Homo sapiens: one gene and its partners. The protein of the gene in region 1 interacts with the protein of each later gene in a pairwise test. Each region holds a gene or a part of one and is shown on either strand. Other genes may lie near its edges.

Region 1 (5,140 bases):
CTCTCTTCTTAGGCCTTAAAGGGGTCCCCGTGTCTCTCCAGTCTAGAGCCTAAGTTCAAACGAGGCGTATAGGCGAGGACAGCAGGAAGGCTCCAAGTCAAACAAACGGATGGTACGAATTTCGCCTGGTCTAGCCCTGCCCCAACGGTGTGGGTGTGGGTTGGGTGCTGCAGCCCCCGAGCAAGGGGCTGTCACAGCCACAACCAGAGGAGCTATGGAGCTGCTACGGAGGAGGGATTCCAGAGTCAGCTTGGGCTTGTCCCAAGGGAGCCCTTGGGACAGTGTCTGGGGCTGCGCGGCCTGGTTCTCATCCCTTGCAGCATCTGCTATTTTAGCCAGGGGCCACCTTCCTCCAATGGCCTGGGAGTAGCTAGAGGTTAGAGGTTACACCCACCAGAAGGGATGTAAGCCCAGGAAGTAGTCAGAAAGGAAAGGTCATTCTAGAGATGGGGCCACCTGAAAAACCTTCAGGAGGAAGGAGAAAGGAAATGGGATAAGTGTCATGTCATACTAAATATTTATTTTCTGCAGACTGACTTCGGAGTAATTCTTGAGCCAGGAGGGGAGAGGTTAGTGTTCAAATTGCTGAGATCTTAGGTCAAAAAGCTACAGAAAAGAAATCACTTTGAAAAACACAATGACTCAGAGGCAGTCACCCCTTGCCAGCAATTCCAAGAGCTGAGGAGGCTTCATGCCTCAGGACATGGTGACTAGTTGAGTGAACCAGAGATTGAGGCAGTGGTTTTTACAGGGGAAGAAACAAGCCTTGGGTGTATGGGAGCAGGAAAGGAGGGTGACAGACTGGAGAAATGATAAAGGCCATTTTGGAAGCCCACAGGGAAGTGGTCTTGGGAAACCTGAAGACACTGGGATATTCAGAAGGCCAAGGGGATCCAGCTTATCCTGTTGGGCAAGGTGCTGGGAGTGAAGGCAGGTAAGCCATGTCAAGGGCCTGGGAAGCAAGGGGAAAACTGGAAGGGGTACCCCAGGTGAAGAAGGGTATGGAATGGGGTGCAGAAGTCCATGGAGATGACCGGCAGATCTCAGGGCGGTTTCTGGCACATCAGAAGTTGGGCTTATGCTTCTTGAGCTCCACCATAAGGTGGTGAATGTTGATGAGCTCAGCCCGGGCAGGGAGGGCTCGGAGCTGCGGCTGGGACAGCACCCGGTGGAAGCGATGATAGAGCTGGATCAGCTGGGTCAGCGCTCCCTGGTCAAAGAAAGTCATTGAGGGATCAAACCGTAAAATGGTGCTAATAGTGATGATTAAGAATCAGGTTAGGCGGCCAGGCGCAGTGGCTCACACTTGTAATCCCAGCACTGTGGGAGGCCATGGCGGGCAGATCACGAGGTCAGGAATTCGAGACCAGCCTGGCCAACACAGTGAAACCCCATCTCTACTACAAATACGAAAATTAGCTGGTTGTGGTGGCAGGCACCTGTAATCCCAGCTACTTGGGAGGCTGAGGCAGGAAAATCACTTGAACCTGGGAGGCAGAGGTTGCAGTGAGCCGAGACTGTGCCACTGCACTCCAGCCTGGACAACAGAGCTAGACTCTGTCTCAAAAAAAAAACAAAACAAACAAAAAAAAAAGAATCAGGTTAGGGCTCATACAGAACTTTGGGCACAGCTAGTAACTGAAGACCAAGGGTCACTTAGATGATGCTGAGCCCAGCAAAAAGATGGGGAAAATAATTAATGATGGGGGATCTGAGTGGGGCCTGGGACTTGCAGGTCACCTGAATGATACTGGTGCCATTTCTGAAGTTGGTGAAACTCCGCATTACATCCTGACTCAGAGATTCCACTGATGATTTCCAGGAACTACCAAAGCCACGGATCAGCTGAGTTACCCGGGCTAATAGCAGGAGGAAACAGTGTCAGAGAGGGATCTGGCTGATCTTCAACTCCACTAAGTTCTCCCCAAGGTATAGCCATCCTTATCATCAAACCCTCTTTTCTGGTATTCTCTCAATCCAGTCTTTCATACTCTATTCCCCCACCATGTAATCTGCATCCTTTCATTTTTCTTTTCCACTTCCCTTACCACTGATCCCATCATTACCATATTTTCCTCATACCTTCTTCCCCTCGAAGTCGCTCAGCCTGTCCACGCTCAATCAAAGCCTCAGCCTCCTTCACAAATGCCACTAAACCCCCAAAAGGGGGAGACAGCAACTCTTCAATGAATTCCTGGAAAGACACAAACACATATACACAGGTGTCCTGGTGTCAGCAGATTTGCCCAATTCTGGCATCATGACTAATGTAGATCCATCTGAATGGCATCTTTCAGCTGCTGCAAAAGTTAAGGAAAATCCTCTATGGAGAAAAATATCCTCAATCCTAATTTTGGCCCATACAGTTCCCCTGGTTAAGATCAAACAATGAACTCAAAGATCACTAGACACAAAAGAAGGGCAGCTACCAAGAGAGTCAGCAGACACAATAAGCAATAGCTGCTGACCTTAAGAACTATCCGATACGGATAGCAGTTGTACTGTGTGCAATGTCTAAAGTTAAGGATAGGCCGGGCACAGTGGCTCACGCCTGTAATCCCAGCACTTTGGGAGGCTGAGGTGGGCAGATCACCTGAGGTCAGGAGTTCAAGACCAGCCTGGCCAACATGATGAAACCCCATCTCTACTAAAAATACAAAAATTAGCTGGGCATGATGGTGGATGCCTATAATCCCAGCTACTCGGGAGACTGAGGCAAGAGAATCACTTGAACTTGGGAGGCGGAGGTTGCAGTGAGCAGAGATCATGCCACTGCACTCCAGCCTGGATGACAGAGCAAGACTCCGTCTCAAAAAAAAAAAAAAAAAAAAAGGATGTAAAAATGACCAATTAGTAAGAACTATGAGGAATGAACAGACTTGAAAAAAGGAAATTTTTTTAGATATGAAAAGCCAGTTTTAGAAAGTCAACAGATTAACAAGAATTATACAATGAATTAGAATTTATAACTGAAGAAAGGACTCAGAATGTAGCACAGACAGAAGATGGAAAATTTTGAGATAGTAGGAGATACAGAAATCTAATTAATGTATCTAGGCACTGAAATTGATGGCTACTAACATCACAAAGAGAGCCAAGAAGACATTATGTGCTTCCTGATGGAAATACATACCACTACCTCTCAAATATCCCTGTAGAAAAAAAAAAACTAATTTAAATCTGACCAAGCCTTTCCATCTAATTACACACTTATGAGAAATACACCAGACAGAGGAAGTTTGGCCACACCATGGAATGCAGTCAGCAAAATCTAAACTGTACATCATTCTAGATGACAAATGACTCAATAACTCAGTTTCTTCCAAAAATAAATTGCAGAGGAGATGGAAGGGAAATCTATAGACTAAAAAAAGACACATATATGGACTTTATATGGATCCTGATTTGAACCATAAAAATCATTTATGAAGGCCAGGCACAGTGGCTCATGCCTGTAATCCCAGCATTTTGGGAGGCTGAGGCGGGTAGATCACCTGAGGTCAGGAGTTTGAGACCAGCCTGGCCAACATGGTGAAATCCTGTCTCTACTAAAAATACAAAAATTAGCTGGGCGTGGTGGTGGGTGTCTATAATCCCAGCTACTCAGGAGACTGAGGCAGGAGAATTGCTTGAACCCGGGAGGCAGATGTTGGAGTGTGCCAAGATCGGGCCATTGCACTCCAGCCTGGAGGCAACAAGAGTGAAACTGTGTCTCAAAAAAAAAAAAAAAAAAATCACTTATGAAATAACTGGGAAAATCTGAATAGTTATTTTAGATAAGATAATTTTTTTAAGTGTGATAATGTATTGTAGTTTTTAAAACCATCTGTTACCAGGTGTGGTGGCACACACCTGTAGTCCCAGTTACTTAGGAGGCTGAGGTGGGAGGATCACTTGAGCCCAGGAGTTCGAGGCTGCAGGGAGTTATATCATGCTACTACACTCCAGCCTGGGCACTACAGCAAGGCCCTATCTCAAAAATAATTTTCTTAATAAAAATAACATTCTGATACAGATGAAGTGATAATATTCATCTGTATATGTATAAGATTTAATTCAAAGTAACTGGGGGACACAGAAGGAGGATAAGCAATAGGTGTTGGTATAGATGAAACAAAACTGTCCGTGAACTGCTATACACCGAATATCACTGATGATGCCTGGGGGTTCACTATGCTTTTCTAATAGCATAGTGAAATTTCCCATAATAAAATGTTAATTTTTGTTTAATGTAAAAGGGAGATTCAAACAAAAAAACTCATAAAAGCAAACAACCCAGACAGAAAGATCTGGTAAGAAGAAAGTGAAATTATTATTCCATTTAAAAATAAATTATTAATACTAAAATTAGCCAGGTGTGGTGGTGCATGCCTGTAACCCCAGCTACTCAGGGAGACTGAAGCAGAAGAATCACTTGAACCGGGAGGCAGAGGTTGTAGTGAGCCAAGATCATGTCACTGCACTCCAGCCTGGGCGACAGAGCAGCAACTTGTCTCAGTAAATAAATAAATAAATAAATAAATAAAAATTGTATCTTTTCTATTCTTCCCTCAAAATATTCACTTATATCCACTGAGGGTGTCAAATAACTAATATGCTGCAAGGAAGGATCTTTCTATAATCAAGGCATCTTTGTGATGTGATTTTGGACAGAGATTAAATAACCAAATTCAACCTATTACAGTTGCCTAAATGCAGTCTCACACACACATATACAAACAATAATGTAGCAGTGTACGGTGGGGCACAGGGAGTAGACTTGCCAAAGAAAAGTTGAACTAACAGTGATGACCCCTGCTAGGCAGGAGCCATAAATTATATAATGTGTTGTAAGCATGATATATACACCTGATTTTGAAGACTTCATCTTAGAATAAATTTTAAGTATATCTTTTTTTTCTTTTTTTTTTTCGGAAACAGGGTCTTGCTCCATCACCCACGCTGGAGTGCAGTGGCACAATCACAGCTCACTACAACCTCAACTTTCCTGGCTCAGTGATTATCCCACCTCAGCCTCCTGAGTAGCTGGGACTAACAGGCATGTGCCAACATGTCCCACTCATTTTTTTTTTATTTTTTGTAGAGATGGGGTTTCACCATGTTGTCCAGGCTGGTCTCAAACTCCTGGGCTCAAGCGATC
Region 2 (3,343 bases), on another chromosome or scaffold:
ACCCGCCTTGGCTTCCCAAAGTGCTGGGATTAGAGGCATGAGCCACTGTGCCCAGCCTGGGTAACTTCTTTTTTTTTCCCCCACAAGATGGAGTCTTCCTCTGTCACCTAGGCTGGAGTGCAATGGTGTGATCTTGGCTCACTGCAACCTCTGCCTCCCAGGTTTAAGCGATTCTCCTTCCTCGGCCTCCTGAGTAGCTGGGATTATAGGCATGCGCCACCACTACCGGCTAATTTTGTATTTTTAGTAGAGATGGGATTTTTCCTGTTGGTCAGGCTGGTCTCGAACTCCCGACCTCGGGTGATCCACCCGCCTCGACCTCCCAAAGTGCTGGGATTACAGGCATGAGCCATCGTGCCTGGCATTCTTTTTCTTTTTAATTAAAAACAATTTTTTAAAAATAGAGACTGGGTCTCCCTATGTTGCTCAGGCTGGTCTTCAGTTCCTAGACTCAAGGGATCCTCCTGCCTGGGCCTTCCAAAGTGCTGGGATTACAGGCATGAGCCACTGCACCCAGCCTTTTTTTTTTTTTTTTGACAAGGTCTTGCTCTGTCACCCAAGCTGGAGGGAGTGCAGTGACACGATCATAGCTCACTGCAGTCTTGATATCCTGGGCTCAAGCAATCATCTCACCTCAGCTTCCCAAAGTGCTGGGATCATGGGCGTGAGCCCCTGTGCCCAGATAGTTATTTTAAATAAATTCTTATTTTATGCTTTTTAAAAGGCTTTATTGAGACAGAATTTGCATACCATACAATTCACCCATTTAAAATGTGCAACTCGCCAGTCACGGTGGCTCACGCCTGTAATCCCAGCACTTTGGGAGACTGAGGTGGGTGGATCACTTAAGGTGAGGAGTTCAGGACCAGCCTGGCTAACATGGTAAAACCCTGTCTTTACTAAAAACACAAAAACTAGCCGGGGATGGTGGTGCACACGTGTAATCACAGCTACTCAGGAGGCTGAGGCAGGAGAATCGCTTGAACCCGGGAGGCAGAGGTTGTAGTGAGCCGAGATTGCGCCACTGTACTCCGGCCTGGGTGACAGAGCGAGACTCCATCTCAAAAAAAAAAAAAATTCTAAATCATTAAGCAGAGGAGTCCTGTATTTCTACAGGTCAAAATTCTATTCTCTCATTCCCCAATCTCTATAATTCTCTGTGTTGGCCATTTTTAATGTTTAAGATATGCCCATGCACAGACTTTTTATGCAAATGTTATACTCGAACCATTCCATGTTCTTTCAATTCTATGTTTTAGTTATTTAAATATATACTTTTATATAGGAAACATATAGATCAGATTTTTCATGGTCAAAATCTGTTTCCTGTTTTACTGAGTCTCATGGTGGCTTGACAGTGGCGTGTGTATGTGTGTGTGTTTGTGTGTGTATTGAAATCGTGACCTTGTGTTTGATTGAACTTAAGCTCAAGGAGACCTGAACACATAAATAGAAATTATTTTCCCCCTGAAAAGGTTTGCACTTGCTTTCTGCAGTTACCCATGGGGCATTACCAACCCAGGACCATTTTAACCCTCTTCAAGAATTCCAGTTTAATATGGGAGCTTCAATTCAGACTCCTACTTTGTGGGGAACCTAAGATTCCATGTTCCAAGCTAGTTTTAGCGTTTGCTGGCTTACAGCCCACTGTTTCTGTTTCAGCCTACAGTTTTCACCTGCTTTCTAAGAGCCTAGTGATGCATTAAAAAGGTATAATTTGTGAACATCTGATTGATTGCAGTGGCAAAGAGAGGGCCCTTCTGAATACCTGGCCCCTAACTCCTCTGGAGATAGAACCCTCTTCTTTTCTTTCTGAACCTATTCCCTATCAGAAACTCCCAAGAATGCCCTTGAAACCTATATGCCTCCTTTCAAATATGCCTGCCAGACTGTTTTAAAATAGTTTTACACACTTTCTTTAGGATAAAAGAATGAAAGAGTTTGAATGGATGTTATTTCTCAGAGAATTGGGGCTACTCAGAAGGAATCCTTGTCCACAACCCATGATGTTTGCAGGAGGAATGATAGGGTGAATGTGAGTGGCCTGGTCTGAGTCCCTGCTATGTCTGTCCCTCCTAATAAGTTCCTGTTTTCTCTTCCCTCTGTGTCCAGCATAATTACTTGAAAACCATGATGGGCCTCCAGCAGGCACATAGAAAATAGAACCTCATCGCCAGTACCTTAAAGGACAAGACCAGCAACTCCCACCTACTGTAGTGGAGCTGCTCAACCACCTGCCCAGAGCTGCAGCCCCCTCTACTCCAATGCTGGGACCCAGCACAGAGAACACATTTGGCCTGCATGTTGGGAGGAGCATCCTCCAAGGACAACCTTGCTCATCTCCACAGAGCACTTTGGGTTTTAATTCACTGTCTTATATGCAGGGACAGGATAAAATAACTTTCTAGTTTGGACTTTCAGTGCTCATCTGAGAACTTTGTCTTATTTCCTGTCTGAAAGGACATATTCTCTATGTATGTGTGAGGTCAGAACTGAGTCTCAAGTAGGAAGGCAGAAAAGTAGCTCAGCCAGGCTCCTCCTGGCAGGCCTTTGTCACACTGGTCAGCCCCTTTCCTGGATAGACATCCTAGGGTGGGGGTGGTGAGCTCGGTCTGAGGAGCTCTGCTTCTCACAGCTCCCTCAGACCCTAAGTTCTCTCAAGACATCTTTTCTGTGTTTCTGAGCCAGTGAAGAAGACAGGAGGAGGCCCTCCTTCATTTGGCAACCAGGGGAGGATAAGGTCTAGCCACAGAGACCAGAAAGGGATGAGGCAGAGCTGGCTCCATGTACCAGGGAATAAATGAGCAGCTTCTGGGAGACATGTCCTCTGCATGTTTCCAGAACACCACGGCCTTCCCTACGCAGCATGCACGGCCACCAGGCACCAGGGTGCCTCCCCTCCCCGCTTTCTCTCTCCGTGTAGGCTGCACTGAGCAGAAGTGAAAGTGAACGATTTACCCTGAATAGGAACTGGGATCACTGTCAAGGCTGAGCAGGGAAGAGAGAAGATATCACTCTCTATCAAGTTACCAGGCTGCAGCTTGGGCCCTTGGTGGTGGCACCAAAGGGAAAGAGTTCATTACTTTGCTCAGAGAACAAACTCAGGCCCTCTGGGGCCTTCCAGGCTGACTGATACGCCCCTGGGTTGGTAAACCAAGTCTCCACTGAGCGAAAAGTTTCAGTGCTTCCTTGGAATTGTATCTCACCCCCTCTTCTGTTCTTATGGGTCAAGGCCTTGGCCTGACACTCTGTGGGTGCTCCCCCGTCTGACACCCTCATCAGGGCCTTGAGGTTTCTGTTATTCTTCCAACAGTGGGAGAGGAGGTTCTGCTCACCTGGCAGT
Region 3 (7,223 bases), on another chromosome or scaffold:
TGGTGGTGAACAAGCTGGATTGAATGTTGTACTTGGCAATATTTGAAAATAACTCTAAATAGAGTATCTTGCTAATGGTATTTCTTTCTCTAAAATTCATTTAAAAAATAGTTTATAGAATTCAAAACTTACTGAGTGTCTAATACGAATGGGGCACTCTAGGATATACAAAGATGAATGATATAAAATCTTTGCCCTCAAAGAGTTTTTAATTTAGTGTAGGGGCACAAATGCATGCAAATAATGACAATAAAATATATGGCATGATAATTTAATTCCATGAAAATCCATTGAGAGCTCATCAGGAACCAGCCCTGTGCTATAACAAGGACAGAAAATATTACAAAGGAGCAAACAAATTAATTCTGATTGGGAAGACAGGGAAAGAGTTCTTGGAGGAAACAGCATTTAATCCAAGGTCACACAACCAGTAAGTGATGGAGCTGGGATTTGGTTCCAGAGTCAATCCCCATGAATGCTATGCTCTACCAGCTCCCAGTATGTGGAGCTTAGAGTAATGTAGTACCATGGAGATGAAGAAGTACAAGTAGCCAGTTGTGGCTAGACCAGGGGTTTGCTACCCTGCTTGTGCATCAGGATCTTTGGGGAAGCTTTAAAAATGTTAATCCTCAGGCCTCACCCCTAGATATTGCTTTCCAAGTAGTCTTAACACACAGTCAGGGATGAGACTCACTGGGTTGAACTCTGTGGCTTATTAAGGGGAGGCAAAACTGAAAAGGTAGGCTGGACCTAATCTGGGAGGTAGAGATGCCATGCTAAATTATGCATTTCAACTTTATTCTATAGGTAAAGAAGAAGCTACTGGGGAGGGAAATGGTAGGATCAGAAGCATTTAGTAATTAGCTTGATTTAATCACTGCACAATGCATACATTATCAAAACATCACTTTGTACACTGCAAATATAGATATAATTTTTGCTTGTCAATTATATTTTAATAAAGCTGGGGGGGGGTGGAGAAATATTTAGACTGATTATTTTGCCTGCAGCATGAAGGATGGGTTTGAAGAGCAGATATTGAAGGCAAGAGCAGAAGTTAGGAGGGCTATGCCATCCCAAGGAGAAGTGAGGAAAAACTCACCTGGGGCAGCAGAAATGTAAAGGAAGAGTCATATATGAGAGACATTGCAGAAGTAAACTCAATAGGCCAGGCGTGATGGCTCACGTTTGTAATCCCAGCACTTTGGGAGGCTAAGGCAGGTGGATCACCTGAGGTCAGGAGTTTGAGACTGATGAAACCCCATCTCTACTAAAAATACAGAAATTAGTTGGGCGTGGTGGTGCACACCTGTACTTCCAGCTACTAGGGAGGCCAAGGCAGGAGGATTGCTTGAACCTGAGAGGCAGAGGTTGCAGTGAGCTGAGATCGCGCCACTCCACCCCCATCTGGATGACAGAGCAAGACTGTCTCAAAGAAAAAAAGGAAGAAAACTCAATAAAACTTGTGATTAGTTAGAAGGAAGAGGCAACAAAGAGGGAAGCATGGAAGACTGATGCTGTGAGCATGCAAGGGCACACTGGAGAGGCAGATTTGAGAATGGGAGAGGATCAGAGTTTATGTTGTCTTACAGAATTTGAGGTTCCTAAGGAACAATCTTGTGGAGGTGTCAAATGGGCAGTCCTGAAATTTGAGTCTGTAACTAATGAGAAAGACTAAAGCTAAGCTGGCTGTCATTTAAACACAGGTGAAACCTGAAATTTCAGCATTTGGTTGAAATCATTAAAGAAGAGAATGTCTGGAACTACACACACACACACACACACACACACACACACACACACACACACATATATATGAAATAAGAGGGCTTCAGAAAACACTTAAATTTAGGGAGTAGATGGGGAAAAGATAAATGCCAGACTTGGAAGAAGATGGAGCAAGAACATGAAAGAAGAAACCAAGAGGGCACAGGAGAACTGAGAAGAGCATTCTAAGTGGGTGGATAATCAGTAATGTCACATGAGTAGGCTGAAAAAATGAAGCTTTTGTCTTTGGAAAGTCACTGGTAGCTTTGTAGTTAAATAAAGTGGAGAAAGTAGAAGACAGGCCACAATGAACTGGACAATGACGGGGAGATGAGGATATGTGGGCAGCAAATGTGGAGATTTCCATTAAGAAGTCTTGTGGAGAAGAGGAGAAATGAATGGGACTGTAATATGAAAGTTAGGTCAAGGGAAGTAAGGTTTGTTTTGCAGGGGAAAGTTGAGTATATGTTAAAACCAAAGAGACAGAGTTTATGGAGAGGTATAACTTGAAGTTAACAAGATGCAGACAGGGTGCCGTCTCTCACGTCTATAATCTCAGTACTTTGTGAGACTGAGGCGGGAGGATCTCTTTTGACTCCAGGGGTTTGAGACCAGCCTGGGTAACAAAGGGAGACCCTGTCTCTACAGAAAAAAAAAAAAGAAGTAAGCTGGGTGTGGGGGGCACACACCTGTAGTCCCAGCTACTCGGGAGGCTGAGGTGGGAGGATCACTTGAGCTGTGGAAGTTGAGGCTCCAGTGAGCAGTGATTGTGCCACTGCACTTCAGCCTGGGCAACAGAGTGAGGCCCTGTCTCAAAAACAAAGGCCAGGCCCGGTGGCTCATGCTTGTAATCCCAGCACTTTGGGAGGCTGAGACAGGCGGATCACCTGGGGTCAGGAGTTCAAGACCAGCCTGGCCAACATGGTGAAACTCTGTCTCTACTAAAAATACAAAAAATTAGCCAGGTGTAGTGGCAGACGCCTGTAATCTCAGCTACTCGGGAGGCTGAGGCAGGAGAATCACTTGAACCCAGGAGGCAGAGGTGGCAGTGAGCTAAGAGTGCGCCACTGCACTTCAGCCTGGGCAACAAAACAGGGCGAGATTCCGTCTCAAAAAACAAAAAACAAACAACTTTAAAAAACCCCAAAAACCAACAAAACAGAAAACAAAACAAAACAAAAATGCAGGGGTAAAGTGATGGAGTCAATTCCCGGAGGGTACTGAAAAGGACTAATTCAAGAGAACTCAATGGAACTCAATGGAAAGTCGCCCTTCTTTCTCATAGAGGAGAGGGAAGGAGAGAGAGAGAGGAGAGAGGGAGACAGACAGAGACAGAAACAGAGGAGAGAGGGAGAGGAGGAAGAAGAGAGAGAGACAGAGAGAGAGAGAAAGAGAAAAAGAAAGCCGGTAAATTCTGCTGAGGGAAGCTGTGGGAGTTGATAATCGGGACCCTGAGTGGAGTGGGAAACGTCTGGAGCTGCATATACGGAGAGGCGGTAGAGTCAACTAGGGATGAAAACGAGGAATTAAAAAAAAAAAAAAGACTGATCTGGAGGGTCCACCAAGGAATTTCCTTGTAACGGGTAACAGCTGTAATATGACATGTTGAAGTATTAACACTGATGACTGCTGTCTACATTATTTTCCATGTGCATGAATTGAGTAGTTACAGGGAAAAAGCGAACTGCCTGTTCCAAACGGCTTACACAGATGAACTGAAGCGAAGAAGAAAAATGAACTTTCTTTTGATGTCAACAAGATAGAGTATCATTTACTGTTGAAGCCAGGTTATACTGATTATTTTCGATCTGGTAGTTAACTTTATCATCATTACATTTGGCTGAGTCATTCCTGGGCCCTAAGTAGAGACGGCTAGAATTACCACGTGAGTAAAACATTATAATATCAAAATAATTAGATTGGCCACAAAAACTACCACGGAAAGATACTGCGTAGCAAAAACGTTGGCAGCAAGTTCCAAAGCCTTGGCGAGGACAAGCAAGGAGCGCGCGCGTGCAGCCATACCTGGGGCCCGCCCAGCGCAGCCGAGCGCGCGGAGAAAGGCCAGCAGCAGCCCCGCTCCCGCCAGGCGGGCGGACGCCGGCATCCTGCGGCGGAAGCACGCGGAGGCACAGCCAGGGCCTCCGCCCTTTGCCAGACAAGGGCACACCCCAAGGTCTGGGAGCGTCGTTCTCAGAAAAGTACAAGTTCTTCTTTGAAGGAGCTCCAGAAAAGCCTCTCCCGCCCCTCCCCGGCTCCCCAAGGGCAGGGCTGGACCGAGCTGCAGAGTTGGCCGGACACTGACTGGGTCAAGTGACCTTGGGCTGACCGCACCCCCACCCCCGGTCGCCCCGGGTCGCTGGTGCACTGCGCCTGCGCGCGTCTCCCCGAGGAGTTCGCGGCGAGGGGCGGAGCTTGGCGCGCCAGTGCCTCGGTTTCCAGGCACCGGGAATAACAGAAGCCAGCTGAGAGCGCCTGCGCGGCTGTCGGTTGATGGGGAGGTCAGGTCTGGGAAACTAGGCCCTGGGGTTTTCCCTGAGCAGGAGCGGTGCCCGAGGGCCTCAGGTACGCAGAAGGGCGGGGAGACATGGGATCAGCACCTCCACCTCCTAAGGGACCGAAGGGCAGGAGAGCGAGAGGACTTGTCCCCAGAGGTGGAGTCCGAAGTGGGGGCGCCCCAGTTGACCCTTCGGGACAAAACGTGACTTCAGCCTTAAGGATCTAAAACCGGCCGCGGTCAGGTCAGGTGGCCCTCAACGCTCAGGTTACAAAACTTTTACAGTCTGCGCCACGGGGACTCCTGGGATGAGGGTTTGACAGCCAGGCACCTGCTCCAGGCCCTAGCAGCTTTTGTGCTCTTTGGAATCAAGCACGGTTCCAGCAGGAGGGAAGCCCTGAGAGTTCTTTGTGCCAGTCACTACCTCTGGGCCACAGCTTTCTCACCTGTAAAATGGTGAGGCTGGACTCTGCGGGAACCCTTCAGTTTACAGGGGAAGAAACGGGGGCCAGCAAGGGAGAAGTCGCTTGTCCTGTTACAGGCCTAGAACCTGACTTTCTAGTCAGGTGCTCTTTCCACCTACTATAGAGTATACTGTGCGTGGCAGAGGCTGGTGCTGGAGGAAAGGAAAGCTAGGTGGCAGGAACACCTGTAGCACCTTCGTTTTTCTACCCTCAGGGCCTAACACAGTGTCTTGTGCATAATCACTCACCAAATGGTTTTTGAAGGGAAGCTTTGGCAGGTCCAGCAACACTGTCCCCAGAAAAGTTTAAGGGAATGTGGGCAGGGCAAATGTAGAAATAGTTTGCTTTAGCAGCCGAGAGTGAACCTCAGACAAACTCTTCCCGTGTATCTGGTTTAAATCTCCCGTAGGCGTCAGTCCAGGCCCTGAATGGCTGGTCTCCAGCGGTTGGCGTCACATCTGCCTGTGGGCGTTATGCTCCCACATAATACAACGGAAGCTCCAGGGCCCCACTCAGCCAAGCAAGACTCTTACGAACAAGGTGACTCTTCCCAGCAGTCCTTGAAGGGGCACCTGAGGAACAATTTCCAGAAGCAGCTTTTGAGCAACAAAGAGTTGATTCTGGATAAAGTCTATACTCACCCCAAATGGAACACCCAAACAAAAGCCCGGAGCTACTCCTATCCCCACTGTACTGGAATCAGCCAGCAAGATCCAGAAAGTGATTCCCAGGGCCAAGGAAATGGTTTGTTTTACTCGTCAGGCCCTCAATCCTGGTATCCCAAAGCCAATAACCAGGACTTTATCCCCTTTACAAAGAAACGAGTTGGAGTGGACCGGGCGTTCCCATTGAAACCCATGGTCCACAGGAAGTCGTGCAGTACAGGTGAGGCTGGCACTGATGGGGACCATAATGTCTACCCAAGGCCCCCTGAGCCGAGAGAGTTTTCATCTAGGAACTTTGGTGTGAGGAACCAGGGCAACTTTTCTGTGGTTGGTACTGTTCTTGCTGCCACGCAGGCGGAGAAGGCCGTGGCAAACTTTGACAGGACGGAGTGGGTGCAGATCCGAAGACTAGAAGCTGCAGGGGAGAGCTTAGAGGAGGAAATCCGAAGAAAGCAGATTCTCCTGAGGGGAAAGCTGAAGAAGACAGAGGAGGAACTCAGAAGGATCCAGACGCAAAAGGAACAGGCCAAGGAAAATGAAAACGGAGAGCTACAGAAAATTATACTCCCCAGGAGCAGAGTTAAAGGTAATAAAAGCAACACCATGTACAAACCTATCTTCTCCCCAGAATTTGAGTTTGAGGAAGAATTTAGTAGAGACAGGAGAGAGGATGAAACTTGGGGACGGTCTCAACAAAATTCAGGTCCATTCCAGTTCTCTGATTATAGAATCCAGAGGCTCAAAAGGGAAAGGCTGGTAGCAAGCAATAATAAAATTCGAGACCCAGTCTCAGAGCCATCGGTGGAGAAATTCTCCCCGCCTTCAGAAACACCAGTCGGTGCTTTGCAGGGATCCGCCAGAAATTCCAGCCTGTCCATGGCACCAGACTCCTCAGGTTCCAGCGGCTCCATTGAAGAGCCACAGCTGGGTGAGTGCAGCCACTGTGGGCGCAAATTCCTCTCGTTCAGGCTGGAGAGACACTCCAACATCTGCAGCAGGATGCGGGGTTCCAAGAGGAAAGTGTTTGACTCCTCCAGGGCCCGGGCTAAGGGCACAGAACTAGAGCAGTACTTGAACTGGAAGGGGCCAGCTTCAGCCAAGGTAACAAGAGCCTTATGGATGTGACTTGGTGTGGTGATCATTGTAGGGGTCTGTTTTGTCATCATCAGTTTTCTTTAGGGAAAATTCATGTGTCATGTAGGAAGAATTGACGTCTAGAATTAACATTTCTTGATTACTACTGTATGCCAGCATTGTGACGGGAGCTTTTCATGTGATCTCCACATTATCTCTCATTGTATCAGTTCAAAAATCAAGACTTGGACAGGCTAAGTAACTTGCTTGAGGTCACAAACAGCTTTAAGTGGCAGAGTCGGCATATAAATCTTGGTTGGAATGACTAAAAAATCTAGACATAGAATTTGTGTCCTTTGGATTATAAAAGTAATAAAAGTTTACTGTAGAAAATTTAAAAGACACAAAAAATCTAAAGAAAAAAATGCAGCCTTTTGTCACCTGGAGAGAACTCCTCACTCTTTGCAATGTATTCTGCCACTTCCCAAGACTAGGATCTGTGACCATTCCTTTAACTATTCACTCTTTTAAGGTTAGCTCAGTGTTAACATAGCTTCTTAGTAAATAGATGAAACACAATTAAGTTTGGAATTCTTTTTCTGCCCATTTAGAATGTAAACACCTTGAAGGTAAAAAGGACTTTCTTTCTGGTTATCTTACAAACCATGCCCTTGCCAATTATTTCTCACTTTAGAAAAACCAGGTTGGAAAAAGTAAGGGTTTCGTGACACTTACATGATAAATTTAGGTGAACTT
Region 4 (7,602 bases), on another chromosome or scaffold:
ACAGGCATCTTAAATTGAACATGCCCCAAAATGAACTTCTGATCTCTCTGAAAATCTGCTTCTTTCATAGTCTTTCCCATCTTAGTAAATGGCAACTCCTTCCATTTAGCAGACCAAAACCTTGAAATCATTCCTGATTCCTCTTTCTCTCATACCCTATATCAGCAAATTCTGAGAACTTTGCCTCCATAATTAACCCAGAATCTCACTGCTTCTTACATCTCTACTGCGACCAAGCAGTCTGCAGGACAGACTGCTTCTGCCCTGTCCTGCTATTTTCCACACAGAAAGACAAAGGATTAAAAAAAAAAAACTCACCACACCACGTAACCTCTGCTTAAAACCCTCTAACAGTATCCCACCATATTCAGAAAAAAAGCTAAAGATTTTACCTTGGCCCACAAGGATTTACGTGTTTTCACTCAGACCTCATCTCCTATTACTCTTTCCTTTTCAGCCTCTAGACAAACTGGCCTCCTTGATAGTCCTTTAACATGTCAGGTATGCTTCCATTTAATAGTCTTTGCGTATATTGTTCTGTAAGCCAAGAATACCTTTAAATAGCCTCACAACTTGCTCCTTGACTTCCACCGGTCTCTCAAATATCACATCCATATTGAAGCCTTCCTGAACTACTCAATTTAATTGCAACCTTTCTGGCTTGCACACTCCTATCTTCCTCCCTGCTTTAGTTTTCTCCACAGCACTTAATGCTATCTAATATAATATTTATTATACCCATTTTGTCTCCCACCACTATAATGTAAGCATCAGAAGAGAATAGATTTTAATCTATTTTATTCACTGACACATCCCCTGAACAGTGCCCAGCAAATAATAGGTACTCAATAAATATTTATTGTTGGTGTTGAATTTTTCAGTGAAAAAATCCCATCTGCAAAAGCCTAGTTTCCAGAACAGAGAAAGGTCCTGACTCTTCCATGAAGCGCACAAACATCCTGCTACTTTGAGGTTTTACTTACCCTGATCCCGGTGCCATTGTCTTGGATCTGAATCAACTTCAGGCCTCCCTCTTTAACAATCACTTGAATACTTGTGGATTTTGCATCTAAACTGGCAAATCAAACAGAAAATAATTTATCAGTCTGCAACTACTCTAATGTACATATTTTAATATGAGCCAAGCAATGATAACAAACTCCAAATACAAACAATAGTGCCTCATTAACGTGTTTTTCCTTTGTCTTACAGGCTCATACACTGTATGAGTTTACATATTGTGTGAGAGAGAGGGAAGAGACGGGCAGAGCAACCATCATTTCTAATAGGACATTCAGCACTATTTCTGTTCCTCTAGGAAAGACAGCAAGTGAAGTTAAAAATAGATTTCTTTTGGCAGATGTCTCTTCTCAACTAATTTTACTTTTACCTGAACTTTATTCAGCCTCAGGTTCCTAAGTGACTCTAATAAAATGTCACTAAATAATGTCACTAAAAAATAAAATTCTGAATGATTTTCTCTACTATTCCCTTTTATATTTACGATGGAGGGGAAAAAAAAAAGTAATGCAGAAAGTTAATAAATCTTTAGGAAGTCAATGAATTTTCTGGCCAGGCGCAATGGCTCACACCCATAATCCCAGCACTTTGGGAGGCCAAGGCGGGTGGATCACCTGAGGTCAGGAGTTTGAGACCAGCCTGACCAACATGGAGAAACCCCATTTGTACTAAAAATACAAAATTAGCCAGGCATGGTGACGCATGCCTGTAATCCCAGCTACTCAGGAGGCTAAGGCAGGAGAATCACTTGAACCCAGGAGGTGGAGGTTGCGGTGAGCTGAGATCGCGCCATTGCACTCCAACCTGGGCAACAAGGGCAAAACTCTGTCTCAAAAAAAAAAAAAAACCCAAAAAAAAGAAGTCAATAAATTTTTTGTGCTTTCAAAGAGTAGCCTATAAGCACAGACCAACTGCTAGAGAAAACAAATTTTCTAGCAGGGGCTGCATGAGAAAGAGTTATCTATTCCCCACACAGACAATTCTTTATTCAGAAATAAGATAATAGGCTGGGCACGGGGGCTCACACCTGTAATCCCAACACTTGGGGAGGCTGAGGTGGGCGGATCACCTGAGGTCAGGAGTTCAAGACCAGCCCGGCCAACATGGAGAAACCCCGTCTCTACTAAAAATAAAAAAATTAGCCGGGTGTGGTCATGCACGCCTGTACTCCCAGCTACTCGGGAGGCTGAGGCAGGAAGATCGCTTGAAACCAGGAGGCAGAGGTTGCCCTGAGCCAAGATCACGCCACTGCACTTCCGCCTGGGCAACAGAGTAAGACTTCATCTTAAAAAAAAAAGAAAGAAGACAATAAGTTACTTAAATATTACAGACATTTCTCATGAGCCCCTGTATTGAAGTTGTATTAGTCATCTCAACTTATATATTAAAAAGAGTATAACTGGACTCCATATAAAAATCTCCACTTGAGCCGGGCGCGGTGGCTCATGCTTGTAATCCCAGCACTTTGGGAGGCCAAAGCGGGCAGATCACCTGAGGTCAGGAAATCGAGACCATCCTGGCTAACATGGTGAAACCCTGTCTCTATTAAAAATACAAAAAACTGCAGGGCGCGGTGGCTCACGCCTGTAATCCCAGCACTTTGGAAGGCTGAGGCAGGCGGTTCACCTGAGATCGAGAGTTTTGACACCAGCCTGACCAACATGGAGAAATCCCATCTCTACTAAAAATACAAAATTAGCCAGGTGTGGTGGCACATGCCTATAGTCCTAGCTACTCGGGAGGCTGAGGCAGGAGAATCTCCCTTGAACCTGTGAGGAGGAGGTTGCAGTCAGCTGAGATCGCGCCACTGCACTCCAGCCTGGGTGACAAAGTGAGACTCCGTCTAAAAAAAAAATAAAAAAAAAATAAAAATCTCCACTTAAGTAATTAATTACAAGCCACCAAGCTAGTATGTTTAGTTTTGTTTTACAGTATTCTGGCACAGTACAATAATAGGCCCAGTTGTCCTGTCAATTCATTCTAACACAGTAGAAACAAAAGCCAGTCTGCCATTGCTTCTGTTACTACTATTACAAGTGAAAAGGAAAAAACATCCCCAGGTTCTTGCTCCTTCTTTCATCTACCTTCCAATTCTCTTCCTTTCCTTCAGTGGTCCTTTCTACCCACTGTTCTCTCAGTCCCATTGCCCTGAATAGTTTATACTTTCACAATAAATCCCTCTAGAAACCTACCACTCCAAACTGAAGCATTCTTTTTTCTATTAACGTACGGACGTCACTAACAACTGATTTTAACAAAATAATCTGACATAACGTTTAGGTGTATTTTGGGCTTGTCTTTTTGGAAGTTTATAGTCTGCACTCACTTTTCCTTCCACATGTTTCAAATCTCTTCCCTTCACATTTTTTGTCACAGTTATAAGCTTCAAAATCCAAGGATGACCCATAAAATCTGGTATCTTCGAAGTGCGTCCTCCGAAATAAAGGACAGGAAAACACTAAGAGGGGTCACTAATTTAACAATAGGGTAATCAGAAGTCAAGCCCAAAGTGCATCAGCCTGTCCTAAAACTACAAACGATTTGTTTTGAAAGAAACTCAAAATGAATTGTGCCTTTGGATGTGAACAGATGATTTCTGGAATGAATGAAAAGCAAGAAAACAGTAACACAGTACCCTCTGAAAAAAGGTTTTTCTCCCCATCTTAAGCTTTTATACATCTTTTAACTTCGCATGTTCTGCATACATAATTTTAAATTAAGTGGCTTCCTTACTTAGTTAACGGTACCATTAAGACAACACTACGTATATTCCTCCACTTACACTCCAAACAACCCTTAAAAGGTCTCGGGGGAGAGCGGTAAAGAAACACACGGTCTGCGGAAAAGGAGAAGGCCTGACTGGCACGTCAGGGAACCCGGCGGCCTCCGCCGTTGTGGGCATGCGCTGTACATGCCTCTGCCCGGGCAAAGAGGCGTGTCCGCGCCATTGAGTGACGCGGCCCGTTAAGTCGTAGCCCTTAAGTGAGCCCGGCTCGACTCCCTCCGTACCAGTTCTCAATCATCTCTTTGATAGCATTAGCTGGCCGCTGGATAACTTCCCCCGCCGCGATGCGGTTCACCACTGTCTCGTCCAGCCGCCGAATAACCCCTGCCACGAACGACATTTTGGCGCCAGAAGAGCCAAGGAAACGTCTAGATGCTCAACGGAAGTGCCTTCAGCCAATCACCTCAGTGCCTCGTGCTCACGTTCTTCCTTCAGCTGTAGCTTACGCCATCCAGCCCCACCCTTCAGCGGCAGCTATTGATTGGACAGCTTGAATGCCAGTCAAATTTCTCAACTCTGTGGGTTGCTGGGTCTCTTCGTCCCTCCCTGAAGCGGCTACTGCCCGCTACCTAGAAGGATATGCGCTTGCGCGTTAGAGATCGCTGTCCGCTCTTCCTATTGGTTCGTTTTTAGGAGCTCGGGGAATACGAAATATCCAGCCAATAGGAGCAGAGATGCCGGAACCGGGCTTGTGTGCCTCTGCTGAGGTGATCTGGCGCAGAGCGGAGGAGGTGCTTGGCGCTTCTCAGGCTCCTCCTCTCCCCTTGCGGCCTTTCTAACGTTGGCCCTGCTCTTGTGGCCTCCCGCAGAATGTGGATGACGCCCAAAAGAAGCAAGATGGAAGTCGACGAGGCTCTAGTTTTCCGGCCCGAGTGGACCCAGCGTTATTTGGTGGTGGAGCCTCCGGAGGGCGATGGGGCCCTGTGCCTGGTCTGTCGCCGCCTCATCGTAGCTACCCGCGAACGCGACGTCAGGCGCCACTACGAGGCTGAGCACGAATACTACGAGCGGTATGTGGCGGACGGCGAGCGCGCGGCCCTGGTGGAGCGTCTGCGTCAGGGCGACTTGCCCGTGGCCTCCTTCACTCCTGAAGAGAGAGCTGCTCGTGCAGGCCTCGGGCTCTGCCGCCTCTTGGCCTTGAAGGGTCGCGGCTGGGGTGAGGGGGACTTTGTATACCAGTGCATGGAGGTGTTGCTGAGAGAGGTACTGCCCGAGCATGTAAGCGTCCTGCAAGGCGTTGACTTATCTCCAGATATCACAAGGCAGAGGATCCTGAGCATTGACAGGAATCTACGCAACCAGCTTTTTAACCGAGCCAGGGACTTTAAAGCCTATTCTCTTGCCTTGGACGACCAGGCTTTTGTGGCCTATGAGAACTACCTCCTGGTCTTTATCCGCGGTGTAGGCCCTGAGTTGGAGGTGCAAGAAGATCTTCTGACCATAATCAACCTGACTCATCATTTCAGTGTTGGTGCGCTCATGTCGGCAATCCTAGAGTCCCTGCAGACAGCAGGGCTTAGCTTGCAGAGAATGGTTGGACTGACCACGACCCATACTTTGAGGATGATTGGTGAGAACTCAGGACTCGTCTCATACATGAGAGAAAAGGCCGTAAGCCCCAACTGTTGGAATGTCATTCATTATTCAGGATTTCTTCACTTGGAACTGTTGAGCTCCTATGATGTAGATGTTAATCAGATCATAAATACCATATCCGAATGGATAGTTTTGATTAAGACCAGAGGCGTTAGGCGACCTGAATTTCAGACTTTACTAACGGAATCTGAATCAGAGCATGGTGAAAGGGTTAATGGACGATGTCTGAACAATTGGCTTAGGAGAGGGAAAACTTTAAAACTAATATTCTCTCTAAGAAAAGAAATGGAAGCGTTCTTGGTTTCAGTAGGGGCAACAACAGTCCACTTCTCAGACAAACAATGGCTTTGTGACTTTGGCTTCTTGGTGGACATTATGGAACACCTTCGAGAACTCAGTGAAGAATTACGAGTTAGTAAAGTCTTTGCTGCTGCTGCCTTTGACCATATTTGTACTTTCGAAGTTAAGCTGAATTTATTTCAAAGACATATTGAGGAAAAAAATCTAACAGACTTTCCTGCCCTCAGAGAAGTTGTTGATGAGCTAAAACAGCAAAATAAGGAAGATGAAAAAATATTTGATCCTGATAGGTATCAAATGGTGATCTGTCGTCTCCAAAAAGAATTTGAGAGACATTTTAAGGACCTCAGGTTCATTAAAAAGGACTTAGAACTTTTTTCAAATCCATTTAACTTTAAACCTGAATATGCACCTATTTCAGTGAGGGTGGAGCTAACAAAACTTCAGGCAAACACTAATCTTTGGAATGAATACAGAATCAAAGACTTGGGGCAGTTTTATGCTGGATTGTCTGCTGAATCCTACCCAATTATCAAAGGGGTTGCCTGTAAGGTGGCATCCTTGTTTGATAGTAACCAAATCTGTGAAAAGGCTTTTTCATATTTGACTCGAAACCAACACACTTTGAGTCAGCCATTAACAGATGAGCATCTCCAAGCCCTGTTTCGGGTTGCCACAACTGAAATGGAGCCCGGTTGGGATGACCTTGTGAGAGAAAGAAATGAATCTAATCCATAAGGCTTTGTAGTACAAGATTGAAAAACTCAACAAGAATTTAATTCTAAAAGCAAAAATTGGTTTGAGTTTTCAAGTTTACTAATTTGGATTGTGAGAAAGTACCAAGTACCAGCCGTCCAAACTGATCACAATTAAAATTCTGACAGTTGCCTTTTTTTTCATCTCAAATGGCAGCATGGGACTGAAACATGAGAATGCCACCTTTTTTAAAACTTAGTTTAGTGACAAAGTCATTGTCTTTTATGATATAGTTAATTTTAAAGAGATTTAGTATTAATGTGAGTTGAATTTGCAGTCTGTTTTTTAGGTGTTCTGAAGATAAATGCCAAAAATTTCAGCTCTTATTTTAATGGAGTGTTAAAATTCTGATTCATATAGTCTTAAATTATCAACTCCTTAAATGTGCTTTTGAACCAATTTGCAGAAGCTCACATAGCAAGTTCATAAGTTTCCAAAAAGGAAGCCCATACATAACAGTGGAGGTGTTTTGTCTAACCATCAAAATGTTTGAGACTTTTTTTTAAACATTTCTGAGTTCGAAGGTAATACTGACAGATTTCTTCCCTCTTCCCTCCCCATCACCCACCTCAGTGATAACACATTACTGATAGAGGAAGTCATTAGAATCATTTTTAAGTTTCAGATATAGGAGACTTCATGCAATTTGGAGATAAGACTAATTATTGGGGGTTTTCCTTGGATTTTTTTTTTAATAACTGGGGGCTATTTTATCAGCTTGCCTATTAAAGGACTATGGTAAGTATAGAATCTTAATGGTTGCCAGTTAGTAATTCTTTTTTTTTTTTTTTTTACTGTAGACACAAGTTTGGCCCTATCAAAAACGATGAGGAAAAAAGATTGCACTCCAGGATTAGGAGGTGTGAGATATTTTAGCTTTTTTGTCTTATCTGCGTGGGTATTGCTGCTTTATTTTAAAAAATCCTGCCTAAAGTAAACACTTTGTTTTAAAATGATACAGTATCAGATTTTGTTAGATGCTAGAAATGGATTTATTCTAAAATTTGGAACTGTCGTACACATTCTATATGTAAGATAGCACACAAGTAGAAATATTTAAAAGCAGTCTTATTCACAGATTGCAGTAATTCTGTATTTCTACTAAGATAATCTGCTTTGTGCCAAAACAGTAATTTCCAAACTTC

What was found.
Region 2: the proteins of VPS52 (region 1) and KIF9 interact in binary tests that used the Homo sapiens proteins (3 or more experiments, as listed by UniProt).
Region 3: the proteins of VPS52 (region 1) and ZC2HC1C interact in binary tests that used the Homo sapiens proteins (3 or more experiments, as listed by UniProt).
Region 4: the proteins of VPS52 (region 1) and EPM2AIP1 interact in binary tests that used the Homo sapiens proteins (3 or more experiments, as listed by UniProt).

Annotation. Positions count from the first base shown.
Region 1 is NC_000006.12:33,249,778-33,254,917, forward strand, and holds the end of VPS52 (vacuolar protein sorting-associated protein 52 homolog), read right to left. Parts: intron 5,114-5,140; exon of another isoform or gene 4,921-5,113; intron 2,195-4,920; coding exon 2,083-2,194; intron 1,930-2,082; exon of another isoform or gene 1,860-1,929; coding exon 1,741-1,859; exon of another isoform or gene 1,736-1,740; intron 1,211-1,735; coding exon 1,064-1,210; 3' UTR 501-1,063; downstream 1-500. UniProt on the Homo sapiens protein: Acts as a component of the GARP complex that is involved in retrograde transport from early and late endosomes to the trans-Golgi network (TGN).
Region 2 is NC_000003.12:47,227,472-47,230,814, reverse strand, and holds the end of KIF9 (kinesin-like protein KIF9), read left to right. Parts: intron 1-2,112; coding exon 2,113-2,163; 3' UTR 2,164-2,817; downstream 2,818-3,343. UniProt on the Homo sapiens protein: Essential for normal male fertility and for progressive motility of spermatozoa.
Region 3 is NC_000014.9:75,065,418-75,072,640, forward strand, and holds the start of ZC2HC1C (zinc finger C2HC domain-containing protein 1C), read left to right. Parts: upstream 1-4,223; 5' UTR 4,224-4,332; exon of another isoform or gene 4,333-4,531; intron 4,532-5,137; 5' UTR 5,138-5,156; coding exon 5,157-6,494; intron 6,495-7,223. Other genes in the region: ACYP1 (acylphosphatase-1 isoform c precursor), read right to left, coding at 3,793-3,874.
Region 4 is NC_000003.12:36,990,091-36,997,692, reverse strand, and holds the start of EPM2AIP1 (EPM2A-interacting protein 1), read left to right. Parts: upstream 1-4,561; 5' UTR 4,562-4,615; coding exon 4,616-6,439; 3' UTR 6,440-7,602. Other genes in the region: DNA mismatch repair protein Mlh1, read right to left, coding at 984-1,074, 4,030-4,145.